3 separate regions of the Homo sapiens genome follow, and all the other regions are linked to region 1. The links come from fine-mapping of genetic effects on gene expression. A gene starts in region 1. Each other region holds a variant in brackets. All regions are shown on one strand. Distances are from middle to middle. Region 1 holds the start of SLC12A6 (solute carrier family 12 member 6). Region 2 overlaps EMC4 (ER membrane protein complex subunit 4). Region 3 overlaps SLC12A6 (solute carrier family 12 member 6).

The links.
Region 2: its variant is fine-mapped to the expression of SLC12A6 in whole blood (INTERVAL, PIP 0.99).
Region 3: its variant is fine-mapped to the expression of SLC12A6 in whole blood (TOPMed, PIP above 0.99).

The regions. Positions count from the first base shown.
Region 1 is chr15:34,332,768-34,341,041 of GRCh38, forward strand. SLC12A6 (solute carrier family 12 member 6) reads right to left here and starts at 5,014. Exons shown (of 26, transcript NM_001365088.1): 1 at 4,565-5,014; 2 at 3,643-3,985. The coding sequence starts at 3,913. RefSeq lists enhancers at 1,402-1,451, 3,079-3,128, 3,189-3,258, 3,460-3,579 and a silencer at 4,869-5,428.
Region 2 is chr15:34,227,950-34,236,359 of GRCh38, forward strand. EMC4 (ER membrane protein complex subunit 4) reads left to right here. Exons shown (of 5, transcript NM_016454.4): 4 at 480-640; 5 at 1,804-2,207. The coding sequence ends at 1,839. It overlaps SLC12A6 (solute carrier family 12 member 6), which reads right to left. Exons shown (of 26, transcript NM_001365088.1): 24 at 8,066-8,250; 25 at 7,232-7,365; 26 at 1,835-6,023. The coding sequence ends at 5,932. Among named protein-coding and RNA genes, the nearest start is that of EMC4, 7.1 kb to the left of the region's middle. The variant G/C (reference allele first, on the strand shown) is at 4,086.
Region 3 is chr15:34,299,265-34,307,674 of GRCh38, forward strand. The region is part of intron 2 of SLC12A6 (solute carrier family 12 member 6); the gene reads right to left. Among named protein-coding and RNA genes, the nearest start is that of SLC12A6, 34 kb to the right of the region's middle. The variant T/G (reference allele first, on the strand shown) is at 4,994.

The sequences.
Region 1 (8,274 bases):
GCGAGACTTTGCCTCAAAAAAAAAAAAAGAAAAAGAAAAAAAGTATTAGGTCCTGCAAATGACATATAAAAATATGTTTTATAGCCACATGGTTATAAAGCACATGTAAAAAATGTTCATCATAGCAGAGGCAAAATGATGCAAGAAAGAGCACTAGATAAAAGTCAGGAGGCCTGAACTTCAGTCTTGGCTTTGCCACTTTGTGATCTACAAATAACCATCTCTATAAGCCTTAGTTTCCTCATTTATTTTGTTATTTTTTTAGTCTAATCTATTGGGGTTTTAAGTCTCCTCACTTATTAAAATGTGGTTTGATCAGAATAAGATTCTAGATCATTAGCTCTAACATGTGGTGCTTTTCAAAAAAATTACTATAAAAGTGATACACTATAAATACTTAAAAGTTGTATATGCCCTTAATTGTTTTGGTAAAAGAAAATTCCACTCTATTTTTTTTTCTTTTTCTTTTTTTTTTTTTTTGAGACAGAGTCTCGCTCTGTCACCCAGGCTGGAGTGCAGCGGCGTGATCTCAGCTCACTGCAACCTCCGCCTCCTGGATTCAAGCAATTCTCCTGTCAAGGCCTCCCGAGCAGCTGGGATTACAGGCGCACGCCGTCACGCCTGGCTAATTTTTTGTATTTTTAGTAGAGACAGGGTTTCACCGTGTTCCCCAGGCTGGTCTCGGACTCCTGAGCTCAGGGAATCCACCCGCCTCGGCCTCCCAAAGTGCTAGGATTACAGGCGTGAGCCACCGTGCCTGGCTCCACTCTATTTTTGTAACTCACTTTCCAGAGGCATCCACTCTCAACAGTTTCTTTTGTATCTTTAAGGCGTTCTTCATACATAAGCTAATACACTGCTAAGATTCTTGATTTTACCAACTGGACAGTCCTATAAATTCAAATGGAGCCTTGCCAAAATGAAAGAAAAATTACTTTGATAGCAGAAAGAAAACTACTCAGAAAGCCAACAGCAGAAAAAATTAAAATATACTGAAATAAGTATTTAAAACTTCATGTAGGGCTGGGCGCTGTGGCTCACGCCTGTAATCCCAGCACTTTGGGAGGCCAAGGTGGGTGTATCTCCTGAGGTCAGGAGTTTGAGACCAGGTTGACTAACATGATGAAACCCCATCTCTACTAAATACAAAAAATTAGCCAGGTGTGGTGGTGCATGCCTGTAATCTCAGCTACTTGGGAGGCTGAGGCAAAAGAATCACTGGAACCCGGGAGACAGAGATTGCAGTGAGTGGAGATTGCGCCCTTGTACCCCAGCCTGGGCAACAAGTGTGAAACTCCATCTCAAAAAAAAAAAAAACAAAAAAAACTTCATGTGTCACCTCCTGTTTGTGTGATGTAATGTGAGTAGAAGACATATGACAAGAAACTTCGGGTGGGAAGTTTCTCTACAGGAAGAAACGTGGGAGGCATGGGGGAAAGGAGAATCATACTAATGTCACAACCACAGAAGGATGTACAAAGGGTGAAAAAATTCAGAGAACTGTAAATACTAAAATAGCAAACTAACTGTGAAATGCACTATGAGCTTAAGGAGAGTCAACTGTAGAAAGGATGCAGTTGTTATCTATATTAAAGCCAGCCTAGAGGGAAGTGTATATTAACATTAGGCCCTTTTCTTCACAACAGCACCCTTTGAAGATCTACATCTAAATCTAACAAGGGCTTTCACATACTGAGAAGTCAAGGGTGAAATAATTGTGTTTCTAAGTGGTTTCTTCTAATGGTGGGGAAAATTTATCACATGATGACAGTCATCATAAGAATTTTTTTAAATATAGAAAGAAAAAAAAAGAGAAAAGGTAGGTCACTGAGAAAGTATAAAGTTCCACGAGAATAGGGCAAAGTCCTCTCTAATGGCCAGACTATTAATTTCCCTTTCATCTGGGTACCGGAGAATATTTAAACATTAAGTAAGGAATGTGTTATATAGAGAACCAAGCTTTTAACATCTGTAACCACGTAAACAAACATAAATTTCACTTAGATATGTCCCCATTTTTACCCCTGTAGTCCCATTTTTACCCCTATAGTGTAAAAGGATACCACTTTAGACTGTAAAGAATGCTTAAGGGTAACGTAAGAACCGCAGACTGGACAAGGAACCTGTTCTGCTGGTCTAACACATTACTAAGTCCACTTTTCCAAAGAATAAAAATACAATTCTGTAACATGTAAGTCACAAGTCTAACAAACTAAACTATAAATTACCTAATGATAATTACAATATTAAGAAATTAACACTGGTATAGTCTTTACCTGGAATTTTTACAACCTAAATACAGCATGATGGATAAAAACTAAAACCACAATTTGGAATTAATTTGGAGGAAGAGGAAATGATAAATTTGTATTCCATACTGTAATTTTAATCCAGTGTATGACACACTGTAAAATTTGTCAAAAAGTTGAAAACAGTAAAGTCTGAGAACCAACCTATGTCTCCATAAAAGAAAAAATGATTAGTCAAGGATGAGTGAATTCTAGGACTGTAAACTTTACCAAATCTACCTTGTCTCCAGATACTAAAAACACAAACAGAATTAGGGAACTAAAATCATTCTGGTTTCCTGAACCCTTTAGGTTAAAAGGAACAATATTTCCTGACACCGGAAAATGGTGAGTAAGCCTTGCTTTCACAAGTCAGTGGGTGAGGCTATGGTTTTCAAACTTGGGTGGAATATTATTTTAAGAGTCTTTAAGGGAAATTTTTATCATTAAAAGATTACATTAGTTACAACACAGCATAAAACTAAATATATAAAGCAGTACAGGTCTCAAACTTTTAAATTTCAGAGTCCAAAAAATGTTATGATCTCCCCATTTTCTCTCTTCTCTCTCTTCCATCACCTCTTCCCAGTACCTCAAATAAAACCAAGCCAGCTGACACACACAAACTGGTTTAGGAAGCTAAAGGTCTGTAGCAGTCAACATGAGCCAGGAGTGGCTTGTGTGCTACCTGCTAACTCTAATCATCAGACTTTCCATCTAAAGCTCAGAGAGAATAAATTACATGGGAATCAGGCCCTAAAAGCCTTTTCAGAAGTCTTCCATTTGACAGAATAGCACATTAGGTCTACCCACCATCACCCTGAGTGGGCTTAGCTACTTGTGTCAAGGTCTCCATAAAAATACAGATTTCAAAAAAGAATTTTGCAATACACATTCGAAGTCTTGGAGGAAAGCTGCTAAGATACGACCAGTAACTACTCCATGAAACCAGTCTTAAAGCAGACTGAAATAGCCAATGATGGCTACAGAACACATATCCAACTCACTAAATTTTAAAATTTAGGATTCTGTGTGCTGAAAACGATTACATTCTTTGATATTCACTTTTAACCAAAATACCCATTTCATTTCTAAGAAGACAAAAATGAGGAAGTTAAAATATACATTTGCCTTCCTTCTTGTCATACACCTTCCCACATACCAAATTACTACTGCAAAGAGCCACTATGCTATTATTCCAAAGAGTTCCTAAGCATCTCACAAAGAGATGCCTTGGTTCCTGATGACTATTATAATCATAATTATATGATTATGATCTTCCAGATCCATAGATGGTCATCTTGGATAAAGAACCCAGTAATGAAAGTATGCTGCGGTCTGTGTTTCTACTTACCCTCGATGACATCCTGGGGGTGAGAAGTCCGGTCACTGGGTGGATCCAGTGCAACAGTTGCCAGCGAAGTGGTGGCCCCAGACATCTCACTCATAGGCTCACTCCGGCTTGTTTCAGGCACGCTTTCCCGGGAGCTAAATCTTACTCGGGAACTAGATCGAGAGCTGAGGTCCGGACTGGTGTCTGACAAACCTGGAATGTCATCGATCTTTGTCGGTGTCACCATGAACCGAACTGAAGCCATCTTGGTGGTGGTTTCTGGAGGATGCATTTTGTTCTTTTTAAGAACAAAAAAAGTGGGGGGAACCTCGCAAAATCTTCCTCTTACGCTAGCTACTTTTGACTGCAATACAAAAGATAACTTGAAAAATAACACATTTCAATAACCTTGATTCACACCACACAAAAAGCCCCAACTAAGAATACTTCTACTCAGAATTCAAGCCGACTGTCCTAGAAAGTGCATCACCAATAGGTGAATATATTTTTTAAGAGAGAAAAAAACAAAAAACAAAAAGACAAAACAATGCCAATCTTGTGTGACTTCTTTCCTTCAGAATGAAGAGCTACCTAGCTAACCCCTCTGGTCCGGGGCTGAAGGCTCAGTGCCATGGTCTCAGGGCAGCAGATGAAGCCTCCCTCCCCTCAGCCCCCAGTTTCCTGTCGAGGTAGTCCTTTATCTGGTGAGTGTCCCACGGTTCTAGTTGGGCGAAGTGCGTGCAGGCAAACCTTTATCAGGCGACTATAGCGTGGATCAGATTGCTAAAAGGTGTACACCCGGCCACCTGTTGTGTATCAGGTGAATACCCCACAGGTCTGGCTGGGGGGAGGTGTATGCAAAGCCACCCGGTGTTTTTGATGTCGACAATCCACTTGGGTCTGGTGGGAAAGGTGCACATGCATAACGGGAAAAATAACCCACACTACTGAGAGAAGGGTGAGCAGAGGAGGATGCAGGGGCAGAGCGGATTCCTGTCTCCGAGAGGTCGGTGGGGGTGGCGCGCCCGCTCTTCTCCTAGCAGAAAGGTCCTCGGGGTCTGGGAGGAGGTTAGCGGATCAAGACACCTCGGACTGCAGCTCAGAGTCGTGGCAAGTCGTAGCTAGTCCACTGAGCCACGGTCCGCTCGCTAGGTTTCTCCTGCGTGTGACAGGACGAGCCACCCCCTTTGCCGGAGGCGCGTTCTCCCCTACCCCCGCCCCGGCGCAGGTCACCCCCTCGTCGTTCTTCCTCAGGGTCCCAGTAGAGGAGGAGACGGCCACGCAGGCTGGCCTGACTGGGCAGCAGGGTGAGGGAGAAGGAGGTCGCAGGTGCAGTATCCCGGCGCCAGCTGATGCGGGTGCGCGCGCAGCTGTTGTTTACTAGCCGGTAACTGTTTCAGAGCCGCGGCGCGCGCAGGGTTCGCGCTGCCGGGGCTGGCGCCCCCTCCCCGGCCCGACGCCAGAGCAGCAGTTACGTGACCTGGCCTCCCCCAGCCCCGGGCCCGACGGGGTGCGCCCGCGCCGCCGCAGCCCTTCCCTTCCCTCCCCGCTTGTTCCTCATTCGAGGTGAACCTTGCGAAGAGAAGCCCGGGGGTGCAGTGAGAGGGCGGAACCGTCCCGCGGGCGCCCGAAAGCCCCGCCCAGCCGCCGCAGCCCGCGGTGACCGAGTGCAGCGCGCCTGCGCTCGCCGCGGGACACGGCAGGCGGGGCGGGGCCGAATACGAGTGGCCAGGGGCACGACGGGAGCTGTAGTCCAGGGCACGGCCCGACCCGCGTGAAGAGGGGAATAATCCTTTTCCTCGGTCCGGCTGTGCTGCACACTCACTCTGGAAGCATCCTAGAGGGCGGGCGCTGCTCCTCACCCTCAGAACCCGGGGAGCCATTTCTCTTTCATGAGTGTCTCTGAAAACATCATTCATGATTTCTTTAACCAGAAACACCGCTCCTATACCTGGGAATAACCCTCATTGTAATTTTTATGTAGAGGTCTACATACAAATAAACCACTTTTATGTAAAAAAAAAAAATTAAAACTATAAAGTAGGCCTGGCGCGGTGGTTCACGACTGTAATCCTAGCACTTTGGGAGGCTGAGGCGGGCGTGATCGATCACCTGAGCTCAGGAGTTCCAGACCAGCCTGGCCAGCATAGCGAAACCCCGTCTCTACCAAAAATTCAAAAATTAGCCGGGCGTGGTGGCGTGTGCCTGTAATCCCAGCTATTCCTTAGACTGAGGCAGGAGAATCGCTTGAGCTTGGGAGGCGGAGGTTGCAGTGAGCCGAGAACGCACCATTGCATTCCAGCCTGGGGGGACAAGAGCAAAACTCCGTCTCAAAGAAATAAATAAATAAAAATAAAACTATAAAGTACCTTAAACACATTTGTCCTACTTTAATTTTTTGTTGTTGTTCTTGTCCTTTTAATAAATGCTATGTCCACTTTCTAGTCAGACTGAAAGTTCCACTAAATAATACGTTTTTTTATACCTGGAGAAGACGTTGATGTATTTTCTCAAATCCATTCCATGTTTTCACCACTACATTTGTCGCTAGAATATTTTTTCTTAGTGTTTATTTAATGTATAAATGGTGGTGTTCGATAAATTCTGACTCACCAATGTTTTGTTTGAAAAGCTATTTCCTATAGCTGTGATCAAGACCTCTAAATTTAACAATCACCTGGGCCCAGAAACTGGCCCCCGGTTTTGCCTGGGGTCTTGGCTCCTCACAAGTGGTTATGTTTAAGCAGCACTCCTAGCAATGGGAACTGTATTCCCGGAAGTTCTCTTTTATCAAATGACACACAAAGTCCAAATCCTTTCAAGGATTAAAGGATCAAAAAGGTTAAAAAGATCCTGGTAACAAAATGAGAAATCCTAATGTAAAGTGTAAACCTCCTAAAGTTTGACTCTTTATAAAGTCTGGGTTTCTTGATTCAGGCCCACAGCTTTCATCCATCCTCAGCAGGATCAATTTTTTCCTCAGGCAGGCCTGCCGTTCATTCAAACTTCAGACTTTTCCTTTATAAAGAAACACAGAATTTTTATGAAACCCAATTTCCTACCAGTGTATCTGCATTTACTTATATGTACCACCTAATTCCAATATACTATCCCTGTTAAGACTTTTCTTGTTTCTGAGCACTAACCAAGCTCTATAAATGTATGTCTCAGACGTTAATACCCCAGGGATCTCTTTATTTTCTCAGGGAGACACAGCCTCTGGTGCAAAATGAAGCCTCATTCCTCAGGGGATCTCTTATGGAAAAAGTCCTTTTTATATTCATGCCAGTTTGCTTTCTCTCCTCTATATTCATTAGGAATATTTTCAGGTTAAAGCTTTTAAGTCTACACAGGTGGTAGCATGGAGCAATGCTAATTCTTTTTTTTTTTTCTTTTTTGTAAGATAAAGGCAGAACTGCAGCCAACATTAAAAAACTGGTAGCAAAATTCACTTACTGACTTTGGTGCTTAAGAAACATGTCTCCAATCATTATCCCCTTAATTGGATAAGATAACTTTTAAAAATCTTTCAGATCCAATGTTATATCCAATCCTGTAAGTGAACAAGCTAAGAAATAAAATTGCTTGACAGGAAACAAGTATCCCATTTCACAATTTCTCTAAGTTAACTCTTTAAAATCCTTCAGATCCAATGTTAAGAACCCTGCAAGTAAGTGAACAGGCTAAGAAATAAAATTCCTTGACAGGAAACAAGTATCTCATTTCACCATTCCTATATGTTTCAGTAATGTATTTCAAAATCATCTGTCTTCTATTAATTATGACTCCAGTTGAGAGACTTTTTTTTTTCTTTTCAGCAACCCACAACTATCCTGAACTTTTCTGCTGGGATGGTCAAATAGCAAGATCCAAGAAAAGCAAAGTCTGGCCGGGCACTGTGGCTCACGCCCGTAATCCCAACACTTTGGGAGGCCAAGGCAGGAGGACAGCTTGAGCCCGGAGTGCAACACCAGCTTGGGCAACATAGTGAGACCTCGTTTCTATAAAAAATTTAAAAATGGGGTGGACCGCTTGAGACAGGGAGGTAGAGGCTGCAATGAGTTGTGATCACATCACTGCACTCCTGCCTGGACCACAGGAGTGAGACCTGACTCAAAAAAAAAAAAAAAGTATTTCCAGGGTATGTCTTCATAAATCACATCTGTGCTAATTTAAGTTATATCTGCTTCTGGAATCTAGAATTTTTATCATAGAAAATAAAGATTGCAGAATTAAAATACAGACTCCACAAAGCAATTTTAAAATCTGCAGCACTAGGCCGGCCAAGGTGGCTCATGCCCGTAATCCCAGCACTTTGGGAGGCTGAGGCGGGCGGATTACTTGAGGTCAGGAGTTTGAGATCAGCCTGACCAACAAGGTGAAACCTTGTTTCTACTAAAAATACAAAAATTAGCCAGGCATGGTGGTGTGCGCCTGTAGTCCTAGCTACTCGGGAGGCTGAGGCAGGAGAATAGCTTGAACCCAGGAGGCGGAGGTTGCAGTGAACCAAGATGGCGCCACTGCACTCCAGCCTGGGGTACAAGAGCAAAACTCCATCTCAAAAAAAAAGAAAGACCCAGGCCAGGTGTGGTGACTCATGCCTGTAATCCCAGCACTTTGGGAGGCTGAGGTGGGTGGATCACTTGAGGTGAG
Region 2 (8,410 bases), 100 kb before region 1:
AGCTGGGTGGATCATCTGAGGGCAGGAGTTCGAGACCAGCCTGGCCAACATGGTGAAACCTTGTCTCTACTAAAAATGCAAAAATTAGCTGGGCGTGGTGGCACACGCCTGTAATCCCAGCTGCTTGGGAGGCTGAGACAGGAGAATCACTTGAACCTGGGAGGCAGAGGTTGCAGTGAGCCGAGATCGTGCCACTGCACTCCAGCCTGGGTGACAGAACGAGACTCCATCTCAAAAAAAAGGAAGAATTAAAGGTAAATTCTTAGGGACAGTTTTTGGCTAACAGGTATATAGGGGAGTGGGGTAATGGTGGTGGCATGGAGGGGAGTGTAGTGCTTACCATGGTTTTCTGTTTGCCTTTAATGGTCCTATTTGCTGTCTTACTATGGGTCTGTCTATATGAATTTAATATACAGTTGGCTTGATTCGTATTGGGGGAAAGAGTTCTTTTGGTTTGACAACTTCTGTTACCGCAACAGCTTTCAAGATGTTAGAAAGTTCAAGCCAGAAGTTTCTTCAGGGTTTGGTCTATCTCATTGGGAACCTGATGGGTTTGGCATTGGCTGTTTACAAGTGCCAGTCCATGGGACTGTTACCTACACATGCATCGGATTGGTTAGCCTTCATTGAGCCCCCTGAGGTAAGGCAAAAGAAAAGCTGAATTTTGGGTAGTTGTAGTATACAGTGAATAGCTGACCTACTTGATGGTAGGAAATTGGAGTTGGTATTTGAGTTTCTTTTTTTTTTTTTTTTTTTTTTTGAGACGGAGTATTGCTCTGTCGCCCAGGCTGGAGTGCAGTGGCATGATCTCGGCAACCTCCGCCTCCTGGGTTCAAGCAATTATTCTGCCTCAGCCTTCCAAGTAGCTGGGATTACAGGCACCTGCCACCATGCCCAGCTAATTTTTTTGTATCTTTTAGTAGAGATGGGGTTTCACCATGTTGGCCAGGCTGGTTTTGAACTCCTGACCTCAAGTGACCTGCCCACCTCTGCCTCCCAAAGTGCTAGGATTACAGGCGTGAGCCACTGCGCCTGGCCTAGGGTTTCTTAAAAAATAAGAGCCATTAGGAGTTTTTAAGTTATTATTTTTAATTAATTAATTAATTTATTTATTTTGAGACAGAGTCTCACTCTGTCGCCCAGGCTGGAGTACAGTGGTGTGATCTTGGCTCACTGCAACCTCCGCCCCCCAGGTTCAAGCGATTCTTGTGCCTGAGCCTCCCTAGTAGCTGGAATTACAGGCAACTGCCACTGCACCTGGCTAATTTTTGTATTTTTAGTAGAGACAGGGTTTCACCATGTTGGCCAGGCTGGTCTTCAGCTCCTGACCTCAGGTGATCCACCCACCTCGGCCTCCCAAAGTGCTGGGATTACAGGTGTGAGCCACCATGCCTGGCCAAGTTATTATTTTTGAAACAGGGTCTTGCTCTGTCACCCAGGCTGGAGTGCAGTCATGTGATCATGGCTCACTGCAGCCTCAACCTCCGGGCTCAGGCACTCAGCCTCTCAAGTAGCTGGGACTACAGGTGTGCACCCCAATGGCTCGCTAATTTTTGTATTTCTTGTAGAGACAGGGTTTTGCCATGTTGCCCAGGCTGGTCTTGAACTCCTGGGCTCAAGCGATCTGCCTGCCTTGGCCTCCCAAAGTGTTTAGCTAAGATTAGCTACTGCGCCTGGCCTGGAAGTTCTTTTTTAAGGATAGGCAAAATAGAGCTTGTGGTTAAAGTATTAAGTAATTGATTCAGGAAGTTATTTTAACACTCATTTGCCACTCACCTATTTATTCTTTCTTTCTTCTTTCAGAGAATGGAGTTCAGTGGTGGAGGACTGCTTTTGTGAACATGAGAAAGCAGCGCCTGGTCCCTATGTATTTGGGTCTTATTTACATCCTTCTTTAAGCCCAGTGGCTCCTCAGCATACTCTTAAACTAATCACTTATGTTAAAAAGAACCAAAAGACTCTTTTCTCCATGGTGGGGTGACAGGTCCTAGAAGGACAATGTGCATATTACGACAAACACAAAGAAACTATACCATAACCCAAGGCTGAAAATAATGTAGAAAACTTTATTTTTGTTTCCAGTACAGAGCAAAACAACAACAAAAAAACATAACTATGTAAACAAGAGAATAACTGCTGCTAAATCAAGAACTGTTGCAGCATCTCCTTTCAATAAATTAAATGGTTGAGAACAATGCATAAAAAAAGTTGCACAAGTTCCTTATTTTCCTTAATATTTCACTTCTATTTAATACAAGCTGGGACATAAAAATTCTGTTGGGGATACCTGGGGGAAGATGTGAGAAACTAATGCTGAATTCAGCTTATACATGATGAAAAGAAAAACCAGACAAAAGGAGCACATAAATATGCATACAGTGTAACTGTTATTATTTTAATACCCACGATAAGGGATTTTTGTTAGCATGTTTAGGGGGAACGAGGATTGGTGGGATCCTTGGGCCACAGGAATCTGAGGCAACGGAAGATATATAGAGTGATCGTCCCCCTGCCGAAGGAACCTGGCACCTGTCAAGCAGATGCTGCAGTTCAAACTTCAGCTTTTAAGATAGATAGCTATTGAAGGCAGAGGGTCAGCAGGAGGATGTGTATTTCTAATCTACCCTGGTAAAGTCATAGGTAAGACTCAAAAGCGGGATCTTATTCAAAAGGCAGGTATTTCCTTTGTTTTCTGTCTTGAAATAGCCCCTTCCCCTAAGGTGCATTCTCTCAAGTTTTCAGTATTGCTTTATTTGCAGTGATTAAAAGAGATGAGAGACTTTGGAGACAGACAACGTAAGCAACACATACACACATGAAATACTCTAGACAGACATGAATATAAATCTGGCCTAATAACCAGTTTTCCATGTAACAGTGATTTTGTGTTTCGGGCTGAAGCAGTGGTTATATTAAAAGCCACTAATTCCCTTATCCCTTTAAAAGATTTTTACAATTCTCCAACCACAAACAGCACTTCTAAAACTAACTTTACTTTCTGCCCATAATTTGTTCTACATGGAAAAAAAAAATATTACTTTGGCCAGGGGTGTGTGTAAATGTGGCAGAATTCCTAGGCAGGCTGACCTTTACAGTATGGGCCTTTAAGATACTGGATCCTGGTTGGGCACAGTGGCTCACGCCTGTAATCCCAGCACTTTGGGAGGCCAAGGCGGGCGGATCACCTGAGGTTGGGAGTTCGAGACCAGCCTGACCAACATCAGTTTCAGTAGAGAAACCCCGTCTCTACTGAAAATACAAAATTAGCTGGGTGTGGTGGCACATGCTTGTAATTCCAGCTACTCGGGAGGCTGAGGCAGGAGAATCGCTTGAACCCAGGAGGCAGAGGTTGCGGTGAGCCAAGATTGTGCCATTTCACTCCAGCCTGGGCAACAAGAGCGAAACTACGTCTCGGAAAAAAAAAAAAAAGATACTGGATCCTGCAGGACATGACTCACTACTGTTAAACTCAACTAAGCAATGGAGTGTTGCAGTGGGAGTTGTAAATAATGCTTCTACCATCTGTAGGAAGTAACAGAAAAAAAGACTTAAGATCCTATCCGCTTTGCCATCCTCAGTGGGCCTGGAGGTTGAAGCAAGCAAAGGGAACAAATCAAAATTACTCAATTTCTTTCTTTCTTTCTTTTTTTTTTTTTTTGAGATGGAGTCTCCCTCTGTCGCCCAGGCTGGAGTGCAGTGGTGCAATCTCGGTTCACTGCAAGTTCCACCTCCCGGGTTCACGCCATTCTCCCGCCTCAGCCTCCCAAGTAGCTGGGACTACAGGCGCCCGCCACCATGCCCGACTAATTTTTTTGTATTTTTGTAGAGACAGGGTTTCACCGTGTTAGCCAGGATGGTCTCAAATCTCCTGACCTCGTGATCCGCCTGCCTCGGCCTCCCAAAGTGCTGGGATTACAGGCGTGAGTCACTGCACCCGGCCCAAAATTACTCAATTTCTTAAGCTATATTGAAGGGTTTTCTCTGTCCTTACAGGTCAAATGAATAATTTGTGACACCTAGGTCAGCTTGCTCCATGTCCTATTTAGTAATCAAAGAAGAGTGGCACTATTTATGACTAATAAATT[G/C]AAATTCAAAAACAGCCATGAATACAGGCAAGAAAAGTTTCTCTAAATAACTATTCTGTAAAAGAAATGAAGATTTCACATACTTGAAATTACTGCTCAGCCAGCCACATAAGTAGTTTCCCTATGCTTGTAAGCCAGATGTTTGATCAGTATATTAGTAAATAAAAAGCTGAGCTTACACAAGTATTTCCTTGGCACACTGAACTTTCTTTTTGAAACATATCACTCTGTTACCCAGGCTGGAGTGCAGAGGTGCAATCCTGGCTCACTGCAACCTCCGCCTCCTGGGTTCAAATGATCCTCCTGCCTTAGCCTTCCGTGTTGCTGGGATCACAGGCATGCACCACCATGCCCAGCTAATTTTTGTATTTTTAGTATAGACAGGTTTTCACCATGTTGGCCAGGATGGTCTCGAACTCCTGACCTCAAGTGATTCACCTGCCTTGGCCTCCCAAAGTGCTGGGATTACAGGTGTGAGCCACGGCACCCGGCCTGAAGTTTCTGAAAACAAATTAGAAGACTGTTGGCTTGGCTAATCTCGTAGTTCAGGGCCAAGTTTCTGTAGTCAGAATGAAGAATAAAATTGAAAGAAAAAGGGGGAAATGCTTATACTTGGCATTAAGTTGAATGCCTCAAGTCTTAACTATGGCTTTGTAGATGAGGCAAAAGATTTCTTAGTGGTAAAATTTCTTCAACAGGTCAATGCCAATCTGTATGCCATTTTAGTAAAGTAGGTAAGGAGAGTAGCCGCTCAGTAACGTTGGCACTAAAGAAAGAGTGTGGCTCTAGAACTTCCAATTCCATTGCTAGATGTGCCCTTTAAAAGATGGTCCAGTGCTTTCAGGGAAGGATGTTTAGCCAGTTTTCCTAGTATTTGTTCCTTAAGATTTTTTGACCTGTGCTTAATAAGAGGGCATAAAAAAAGGCGCGGGGGTGGGGGCGGGGGGAGAAGAACCTGTTGATTAATGTGCACCATGACCTGCATTTCTTAGACAACAGCTTGTATGTTTTGTCCATGTTGTATAGAGAACCACAGACTATTTCAGTAAATGTTAATAGCTTCCTTTTGGAGTTCTCTTAGTTCGGCCATTTGAAAGGAACCTGAAAGAAATAATTTTTACCTTACCAAAAACAATTTCCATGGTAACACTGCCTGTGTTACAATGACAGAATGGGTTTTGAGTTAAGAGAAACAAAACAGTTGAAGTATACACTGACACAGTATTTGGATATTTAAATCTGGTATTTTGGGGGGATGTTTTTGAAGAAGTAGAGGCTGCAGCCATGTTTCAAGTTAGTATCCTAATATAAAATTACAGCAGTGGGTATACTAAAGAAATATAGCTAAAAAATGTTTGCATCTTGGCTTGCCGAGGATAATAGGTCCAAATATACTTGACCATAAATTCTTTAGTAAGATGAAGCTGTCTCTAGTTGTTATCCTCACAGTGTCAACATTGAACCATGACTTCTGAGATTCATCTTTAATGCTGAATACGTACTTGACTTGCTTTTTTTCTTCAGTTGAATTTCTAGCATCCCTTTTACCAATTCATTTATTGGCTCAGCTTGTTAATTCTAATTTGCCTTTGACTGCTCAGACGTGGCTTGAAAGACTTGAGCATTGTTCTGATGTTGAGGGAATATTTGCTTTTTCTGTAATGACTGCAGATCAGATGGGAGCTCTTTTACACAGGTACTTGAGGCTCAGCTCATCAAGAGTTCAGTATGATGTGTACAGAACACAGGCTTCTAGTTGAGTGGGAGTGGTAGTAATGAGCTGGCACTTCCATGGAGGACGTAGGCCTTTTAAGAAAACAGGTCAAGCACGGTCATTCAGAGTAGGTTATGAATAAATGGTGATCACTTCACTGCCACCACCCCGGACAAGTAGGACTCGCTCTAGTCCCTCGGTAAGCACCTCTAGGAACTCCATGTCTTCAAAACTTGTCAAGGAGACAGGCAAAAGAAGAGCACAAACTTAAAACCTGGCATCATCATAATCTGAGGTTATCTGATCATAGAGCTACAAAATTAGCTGCTTAATTATTATATATTCAGAAAAGTCTGAACTTTGGATTGAATTTAACCCTGTGAAGTAACCAGAGATCCAGTCCTTTTGCATACATAATACCAGACTCCCATTTGTGTATTTAAAAAATGGGAAAACCTAGAAGTGTTACTCTAAATAAGATAAAAATGATGAAAGAAGAAGAAAAGCCACAATAGGGCAGCTAACAAGATTCCTAGAGAGAACCCAAGTAATTTCTAAGTGAAGCTGCTCAAGTCAGATTTTTCTGCCAGTTCGGTTTGTCTTTTTCTTTTTAAACCTTTTTCTTTTCTTTCTTTTTTTTTTGAGACAGAATTTCCTCTTGTTGCCCAGGCTGGAGTGCAATGGTGCGATCTTGGCTCACTGCAACCTCCACCTCCTGGTTCAAGTGATTCTCCTGCCTCAGCCTCCCGAGTAGCTGGGATTACAGGCACCTGCTACCACACCCAGCTAACTTTTCTATTTTTAGTGGAGACGGGGTTTCACCATGTTGGCCAGGCTGGTCTCGAACTCCTGACCTCAGGTGATCCACCTGCCTTAGCCTCCCAAAGTGCTGGGATTACAGGCATGAGCCACCACACCTGGCCTAAACCTCTTCTTTCTTAATGGTACTGGTGGGAATAAGCTAATTTATGTGTCAATGCTGAAGGGTTTCCCGTATCCCAGGAGTCCTGGGATGAAGGTATGAGGAAGAATCCCTATCTCTTTTTTCCCCTCAGTTAAAGGAGGTTCTATCTCAGCTTCTCCCCTAACTCTATCCAAAAGAAAGGCTTTGCAAAGCGGGTAGAACCTAAAAAGGCGAAAGGATGTGGGTATGCTGTCTGTAGGATTGTCAGGAAGGGTTTTATACACTGAATATTAGATGTCATGTTGCAAATACACCACCTAAAACTAGAACTGAATTATATTTGCCCCAACTCCCCTAAAAGAGTTTAATCTTATAACTTTGTAAAAATCCTTGCCTAGGACTTTTAAGTCTCCCTTCCTTAAAGAGGGAAAGTGGGGCATAGACAATGACTTTTATTGTTACCTAGTTATCTCAGAAAGAGGTTAAGGAGATTTTCCCTACTGGAAGCCCCACTCTTGGAAAGGATACAGTTTTCATCACCCTCAGGGTTTCGGGGTGGCCCTGGCATATTCAATAAAACCAGCTTTGCTTCATGGGACTTGTTAACTATAACCTCGTTGAGTTTCACTGCTGTATGCATCCGCCTCACATTGGACTGGTCCCTGAGTGGGGAAGAAATAAAGGTTGTTAAGGTAAAAAGACAACTAGCCATAAAGTCAACGTTAAAAACTTGAGATCCTGAGCTTTTTCACTTGACTATGGATAATCTGATAAAATGATTTTTTTTTTTTTTTTTTTTGAGAGGGAGTTTCGCTCATGTCACCCAGGCTGGAGTGCAATGGTACAATCTCAGCTCACAGCAACCTCCGCCTCCCAGGTTCAAGTGATTCTCCTGCCTCAGCCTCCCGAGTAGCTGGGATTACAGGCCCCCACCACCATACCCGGCTAATTTTTTTTGTATTTTTAGTAAAAACAGGGTTTCACCATGTTGGGCAGGCTGGTCTCGAACTCCTGACCTCAGGTGATCCACCCGCCTCTGCCTCCCAAAGTGCTGGGATTACAGGCGTGAGCCACTGTGCCCAGGCTAAAATGGTTTCTTTATGATATTAATATCTGGGTTTTCTCATTCTCTGTTGGCTTATTTTATAGTAAGAACACAGTATGGAGGTGAACTATGTGGATAGAGGGGATGGTTAGCTTGTGTACAGTGTTCATTGGGAGCCAGTATGAACAGGCAAACAATAATGAGGTGGCTAGATTCAGGGTGAAATGAACAGACTCCATCCTGTGTGTCCAGGCAAAGTCACATTTGTGCCACTGATTAGGTAATTTTATGATAAACTTGGGAGTGGGAAAACTTACGGACGCATGTTAAGCAGGTCCTGGAATCCTTCCATTGACTTCGCTTTTTGTCCCCGGGATGCCATGTACTTGTCTTTTGTCCAAGTCATGTGCACCTTCTCCTGATAGGTTTCTGTCTCTTCGTCCTCATCAGAGCCAATGCTGGTCAATCGTAGCATTGAGTTTCGGTCTTTCACCAATTGTGCCTGAGGAAGAAGGTCCAACACAAGTTATTCTACCAAATTTTCTCTTATGCTTCATCTTTGGTTATTTTGAAGCAGTAATGGGTTATAGTGGAATAACTGACAGAGTGAGAAGGAATTTGTCATCCTTGAAAACAATATAGTATCATCCCTTTTTTTTTTG
Region 3 (8,410 bases), 33 kb before region 1:
TCGAAAAACTTCAGCTTGGCATTTAAGCCCCTTTATATTTTAGTTTAACCTTTTCTCAACTGTTGGGTATAAGCTGCCTTGTATTATCTTTTAATTAATCAACATATTAATTCAACAAATATTTACTAAGCATCTATAAATGTCAGATTATGTGCTAGGCACTGGAGATGCATAAAGATGAATAGAGCACAGCAGCTACCCCTAAGGGGCTTACAGCACATACGGGTAAGACAAGTGATTGCAGTGGGTGACTAAAGTACTATATTGGAGGTGTAGACATAGAGTATGGTAGCGTGTACATTACATTACATTTCCTGGAGTGATCACAGGGACCATTAAGGAAGAAGTGGTATTTGAGCTCAGTCTTAACATGAAGATTGTTTGCTAGGTAACTGAAGAACACTCCAAGAGGATGGAATAAATGTGTTAAAGCAACAGAGACATTCAAGAACATTCATTATATCTGGTGTGCAGTATGTACAAAAGAGTAATAAACAAGGAAGCTATTAAGCTGGGATGTTCTAGATCGTGTAGGTACATGTACCTGCTAAGCAGTACAGACTTTGTCAGCATGGGGAGACATTAGGGGGTTTTAAATGAGGGAGTAATAGGATGAGATTTACATATGAGAAAAATTCCTCTGGTAATTACTGTAATGGATGGCTTTAGGAGGTTAGACAAAAAATAACAATGGACTAGGATAGTAGCAGTGAAGATGGAGAGAACGGGACAAATTTGAGAATTATTTGGAAGACTAAATGAGCAAAAATCGGCGAGAAAGAAAAGGAAAGAGTGACAGAGAGATTGAATATTGTAATATATCAAGGGGGAAGGAGTCAATAAAAAAATTAGAAATCACAAGAGTTAGGAAGCAAGAAAGGTTCTAGAGCACAGGTGTATGGATCAATATTGAACGACAACAAGGAAGGTGGTAAAGGATAGGTGTCAACACAGATGCTGGTAAGAACTTATGAAGAAGAATATTAGAAATAAAGAAATACAGTTTACTCTGTGAAGTAGAAGGTTTAGCTATATGAGAATGGAGGATTGAGGTCTTAAGCATTTTAACTCTGTAAGGATTGAGAAGGGAAGCTAACTAGAATCACACAGAATGTCTAAATAGTGTCGACAGTACAACATTGTTGGAAATGATGAATTTATGGTGGTATCAGTTTTCATGGCTGTGAGATTCCCCTACTCCCCTACCCCTAGCCATAACACAGCTGCCAGGATTAAGAATGAAAGGAGGTGGCTAGGCACAGTGGCTCATGTCTGTAATCCCAGCACTTTGGGAGGCTGAGGCAAGAGGATCACTTGAGCCCAGACCAGGCTGGAAAACATAGAAGACTCTGTCTCCACACACACCCAAAAGTTTTTAATTAGCCAGTCATGGTGGTGTGTGCCTGTAGTCCCAGCTACTTGGGAGGCTGAGGCACGAGGACTGCCTGAACCTGGGAGACAGACATTGCAGTGAGTGAGCTGAGACGCACCACTGCACTCTGGCCTGGGAGACAGAGTGACTCCGTCTCAAAAAAAAAAAAAAAAAAAAAAGAATGAGAGGAGCAGGTTTGGGGGCATGAGGGGCAGGGGTCCTATCTGCCCATTATAAGCATTTTGAGACAAGAATTTTGTTTTAACGTTGCTGTGACAATTACAACTTCATGTAATACAGACAGAGCTTCATGTAACATTTATAAAATGTTCAACATTTTTGTTTTTTTGAGAAGGAGTTTCACTCTTGTTGTCCAGGCTGGAGTGCAATGGCGCGATCTCGGCTCACTGCAACCTCCGCCTCCCAGGTTCAAGCGATTCTCCTGTCTCAGCCTCCTGAATAGCTGGGATTAGAGGCATGCACCACCACACCTGGCTAATTTTGTCTTTTTTAGTAGAGACAGGGTTTCACCATGTCGGTCAGGCTGGTCTTGAACTCCTGACCTCAGGTGAGGTCAGGGATTACAGGTGTGAGCCACCAGGCCCGGCCTCAACATGTTTGTTAACTGACTCATGTTGAAGTGATTTCAAAGACAAATACCAAGAGACCAAAATTCAGGATTAGTTTTAATAAAGGCTGATGATGGAAACAAAGAAACAAAGTCCTCATCAAAACATAAGAGCTGAAGACAGAAGGATGAACTTTCCTAAAAGCCAATGGAAAGAGAAAGCACCTGAGACCAAGGGCTCAGAATGCTAGAGAAGGAAACAGAGGGAAAAAAATTATTGACACTATGACTGTAATGCTGTCATTCCAATTTTTCCCAACAAGTCTAGATACTAGAAGGAAGAAAATGGTAATTAAGGTAGAAAGTAGTGAAAATGTAGGGCCAAACATGCCTATGGAGCAGAACACACAACACATGAATCCTGAAGAAATTGTATGTGAATTTACTTAGCAATCGTCTCTTTGATCCATCTGACTTATTTTAAAGAAAAGACAGCCAGACAAGGCTGGGCGTGGTGGCTCACGCCTGTAATCCCAGTGCTTTGGGAGGCCAAGGTGGGCGGATCACCTGAGGTCAGGAGTTCGAGACCAGCCTGCAGATCTGCCACTAATACTGGGTACTCATCAACAATGTCCTTCAAAATCCAGTACATATGCTAAGAATAAGTATTAGATTAACAGAGGCTCTTAAGCAAACCAGTGCTATTTAGTGGAGTGTCCCAAGCAAGAGAAATGTTAAGACCACTTTTTGTTTGAGCTCAGATTTGTATAAAGAAAATGCAAATGAGGTAAACTGTGTTCTGAATACATTAGATTAAGTTGTGTTGAAATTCTTCCAAATATGTGGAGATAAATCCACTAGAAGTTGAAGAACTCAGCAGTGATGAAGATAGTTATACTTCTAATTCACAGCCTATAACTTATACAACCTATGGTTGTAATTTTCTTCTCAGCCTATAACACTGAGAAGATGGTGAGAGTAATACCAGACAGTAGATTTAATAAAGGCCAAAGTATAATATAAAGAGAGTTTATTGGGCCAAATCCACAAACTGGTCAGTCAAGAAAAGTATAAATGATACAAGAGGACTGTACCTACACAGTTAAAAAAGAAGAAAAAAAACTTACTAAGAAATAACAAAGGAGGATGGATCTTGAGGCTGTTGCAAATATTACTGAAGAAAATTATGTATAAAGAAGATTATGGGCTAGCCAGGTGTGGTGGCTCATGCCTGCAATCCTGACACTTTGGGAGGCCGAGGCGGGTGGATCACTTGAGGTCAGGAGTTTGAGACCAGCCTGTCCAACATGGTGAAACCCCATTTCTACAAAAATACAAAAATTAGCCAGGTGTGGTGGCGGGAGCCTGTAATCCCAGCTACTCGGGAGGCTGAGGTAAAAGAATTGCTTGAACCCAGGAGGCGGAGGTTGCAGTAAGCTGAGATTGTGCCACTGCACTCCAGCCTGGGTGACACAGTGGCTCATGCCTATAATCTTGGCACTTCCGGAGGTGGAGGTGGGATGATTGCTTGGGCCTAGGAGTTCAAGACCAGCCTGGGCAACACAGGGAGATTTGTCTCTACAAAAAAATTAAAAATTAGCCTGGCGTAGTAGTGGATGTCTATAGTCCCAGCTACTTGGGAGGCTGAGGTGAGAGGATTGCTTGAGCCCAGGAGGCTGAGGCTGCAATGAGCCATAATCATGACACTGCACTTCAGCCTGGGTGACAGACGGGAGAAGGGAGACCCTGTCTCAAAAAAAAAAAAAAAAAAAAAAAGATTATGTCATTCTTTGGTCTTGTGGATGATCCAAATTATTTTTCATGCACTGTGGAAACATATTTCACATTTTCATTTTAAAGATGGTTTTGGAAAAATAAACATGACCATAAGAGACTATCTTCTTAACAAGAAGGGGAGAAAATTGGCCTAAACAACAAATTAGGAACTAAGGAGTTAAAAGGGGAATTAGGGGGACTAAGAGACTACTGTGAACATTTCCAATATTTTAAGAGCCTATATTGATTTCATGTTACAGTCAAAGGTTAACTGCTTAATGTAGGCTGAACATAACATTTCCTAAAGTTTTAAACCCAGACATTAAACTAGAAACTATTATTATATATACTGTATTCTGGAATTTTTTAAAAACATTGTTTTTAGTGTGTATACTTTGAATAGTAAATGTGTCATGATCTTCAATAATTTAGAAAATATAAATGGAATCATATATAAACTTTTGAGACTGCCTTTTTTTCATTGAGCCTAATGCCTTGCAGATTCATGCAAGCTGCTGTGTATTATCAACACTAGTTCCTCTTTAAAAAAAATACATTTTGAAACATAAACTACAGACCTGCCATGGTTTGAATATATCCTCCCAAAAGCATCTGTTGGAAACTTAATCCCCAATGCAACATCACTGGGAGGTGGGGGACTAATTAGAGGTAATTAGGCCATTAGGTAATTAAGCCACCCTCAACAATGGATTAATGTCATTATCAAGAGAGTTTGTAACAAAATAGGGAGTTTGGTCCCCTTCTCTCTCACTCCCTCTTACCCTCTCTGCCCTCTGCCATGGGAAGATGCAGCAAGAAGGCCCTCAGCAGATGCTGGCACCTTGGTCTTGGACTTTCCAGCCTCCAGAACCACGAGTCAATAAATTTCAATTCATTATAAATTACCCAGTCTGTGGTATTGTTATAGCAGCATGAAACATACTAAGACAACACCATATAATTCACTCAAAGTGTTCAGTGTTTCTTAATATAGTCACACTGTTGTGTAGCTGTCACCACAATCTAATTTTACATTTTTGTCTCCCCACTAAAAGAAACCCTCTACCCATCAGCAGGCTAATCCCCATCTCACTCTCCCCAACCCTATCCAGACTAAACGACCATTAATCTAACTTCTGCCTCTATAAATTTACCTATTCTGGACATTTCCTACGAATGGAATCATACAGTATGTGTTTGGGGTTTTTTGCAACTAGATTCCTTAACTTGCATTTTCAAGCTTCACACATGTTATAGCAGGAATCAGTACTTTGTTT[T/G]TATTGCCAAATAATATTCCATTATATGGCTATATCACATTTTATCTATTCATTTGTCAGCTGGAGGACATTTGGGCTGTTACTTCTTTATTAGCTATTATTTATAATGCTGCTATAAACATTCCTGTACAAGTTTTTGTGTGGAAATACACTTAATTACTGGGACATATGGTAATTCTATGTTTAACTTTTTAAGAAACTGTCAAATTGTTTTCCAAAGTAGTTGTACTATTTTACATTGTCACTAGTAGCAGATGAGAGTTTCAATACTTCACATCCTTTCCAACACTTGATATCTGTCTTTTTGTTTATAGCCATCCCAGTGAGTGTGAAAAAACTGTACCTCATTTTGGTTTTGATGTGTATTTCTTTAATAACTAATGATGTTGAGCATCTTTTCATGTACATATTGGTGCTTTTTCCTCTCCTCACCTTAATTGGAAAGCTGTTACTTCCTTTTGTTCCCACAGTTTTGAGGTTCTGCCCTGACTTACTTATCACATTGTAAATATTATTGTTCTCTGAACTATGCATCCTTTGGTTAAAAACCTTACTTAGCATTTACATAATACATTCCCAAAGAGTCTGTCATTTTCCATTATTTCTATCCCTTTCATCATGTGATCTCTGTTCTAGGTCACTTGTTATTTGGCTAAAACCCCTTCTTGAATTTTCTCAGAGGAGTTAAGTGGGTATTATATCCTTGAAATTTTTGTATAGTTGTAACATGTTTCCCCTCATAGGGGAGAAATATCTTCAAGGGAAATAGGGATTTGGGATTGTGAAATCCCCAATCTGTAAATACTCTTCTACCATCTCCTAGTTTCCAGTGTTGTGAATTAGAATTCTGATTCCAGTCTGTTACTTGATAGGTGCAACCTGTTCTATCTGGAAGCCTCCAAGGTGAATCCTTGGAGCTCAAAAATTTTACAAGGATATCCCTATGTATGTGTTTTTCATCACTGATCTCCCCCAGAACTTCATTCTGCACACTGAAGTCTTTAGCTCAGGAAATAATTTTATGTTGTTTAATTATTCCTTCTCCATTTGTTCCTTTTTCTTCTTCTGGAACTTGTATTAGCCATGTTAGGTGTCCTGAATCGATCCAATAGGTCTCTTTTTTAAAAGTTTTTTTTTTTTGTATTTTTTTTTTGGCTCCATGCTTTGAAATATTTATTTTACTTGATCTTCCAGGTCAATAATTGTTCATACTCATTCATTCCTTTATTCAATAATTATGTTTCGGGCGCCTACTATGTGTAAGACAGTGTTCTAGGTATTAGAGTTGACAACAGATTAGCAGTGAATACAAGACAAAAAAGTTCCTGTTCTCCTGGTGCTTACACTCTAGCAGAGATAGTTTTAAAAAAAATAAGTGTGTGAGGATAAATGGAGTCAGGTGATAATAATTATTTAGGTGGAAAAATCACATTTTTTGTTCCATAAAGTCTTAAATGTGGCCCATTATTATTTTCATGTTCAAGTTTCTCTCTCCTCCAGCATTTTTTTTTTTTTTTTAAAGATGGAGTCTCGCTCTGTCACCCAGGCTAAAGGGAGTGGCGCGATCTCGGCTCACTGCAACCTCTGCCTCCTGGGTTCAAGTGATTCTCCTGCTTCAACCTCCTGAGTAACTGGGACTACAGGCGCCCACCACCGCGCCCGGCTAATTTTTTGTATCTTTTTTTAGTAGAGATGGGGTTTCCCCATGTTAGCCAGGATGGTCTCGATCTCCTGACCTCGTGATCCGCCCGCCTCGGCCTACCAAAGTGCTGGGATTACAGGCGTGAGCCACCGTGCCCAGCCTCCTCCAGCATTTCTATTTAGCTAACTCAATATATTGTTTATTCTAAGTGGTTTTTCTCTTTCAGGTTGCCTGGCTTCCCCAGATGGGTTGTTTATCTTTGTCACCTCATGGGGGATGAGATTTAGTTGTTGGAGGACCACAAGCGGTAGCAGTCTCAAGAAAATGGAAAGGCAAAGCAGTCTCTACCCCTGTGGGTAGGCAGTGCTGCAGCAGGCAAGCCACCAGCCCTTGTGGAGGCCCAGGAGGAAGCCTCCCTGCTCTCAGGTCTCCTTACATATGCCAGCCACAGGGATGGGAAGATCTCAGACCCATGGCTCTTTCCTTTTCTCCTTCCCTCCAGGAATTCATGGATATCTACCAAACCAAGTTCTTTCCTGGATTTGCCATTCTTATGCTTATCCTGAGATTTTCCAGGCTCTTGTCTAGAGGAAAAGTCCTGTACCAACTCTCCCTGACAGAGTTCTCACACAGCCCATGGCCTCAATTGCACCAACTGTTCATCAGATCCAGGAGCCACTTCACTCAAGATTGACAGATACAGGCTGGAAGCAGGAATGGAGGGATAGTGAGATATTCAAGTAGCCACCTTCCCAGAACTCACTCTGAAAAGTCAGTCCTGTTTACAGACTAATCCTAAAAGCATTAAAATCTTGGCATGTAAGTCAAAAATTTAAAGTGCCACTGTAAAGTCCAAACATCTGTGGACTGCATTGTTTTCAACTACTGCCCTAAGTATTAAGTTCTGAAGAAAAAATTTAAGAAATAAGGAAGATCTTAATGGAAGTCAAAATTAAAGGAAACTGATTAGATGGACTCTGAAAATAATTGTTATATAAAAGCAGTCAGACCAAAAGGAGTACATACTGTATGATTACATTTATATAAAATTCTAGGAAATGCAAACTAATTTGGTGACAGAAAAAGAGAACAGTGGTTGCCTAGGGACCAAGGAATTAGGTGAGTGGGGCATAAAGGGCACAAAGAAACTTCTGGGGGTGACGAAAATGTTCACTATCTTCATTATAATTATTTCATGGGCATATAAATGTCAAAATTCATCAACAAAATATACACCTTAAAGATGTACAGTTAACTTTATGTCAACTGCACCTCGATAAAAAAATACCGATGGGGAAAAACATTTGGAATTTATTTCCCAAAGGGATTGACATCCCTAAATATAAAGCATATCTAAAAAATAAAGAAGAATACCTACAGGTAACAGACATGAACAGGAAGTTCACTAAACTTTTCCGAATTTGAAATTTCCACAATAAAAAATAAAATATGTAATTTTCAGAAAAATATTAAAACACTATGTCTCACCCTCAATACAGGTGAAGAGATAAAATATAATTACAGTGTTACTGCAAGAATATTTGACTGCTGATAAATACCAATTATTTTTCTTTGTTTTTTACATTTTTCTTTTATTTTTAAAATTGAAGATGAGGTCTCACTATGTTCTCAGGCTGGTCTCAAACTCCTGGTCTACAGCCTCCATCTCTCAAAGTGTTGGGATTATAGGCATGAGTCACCATGTCCACCCATTAATACCAATTAATGATATAATCAAAGTTGGAGTAGAAGATTAGGAAAGTCATCTTGGAGGA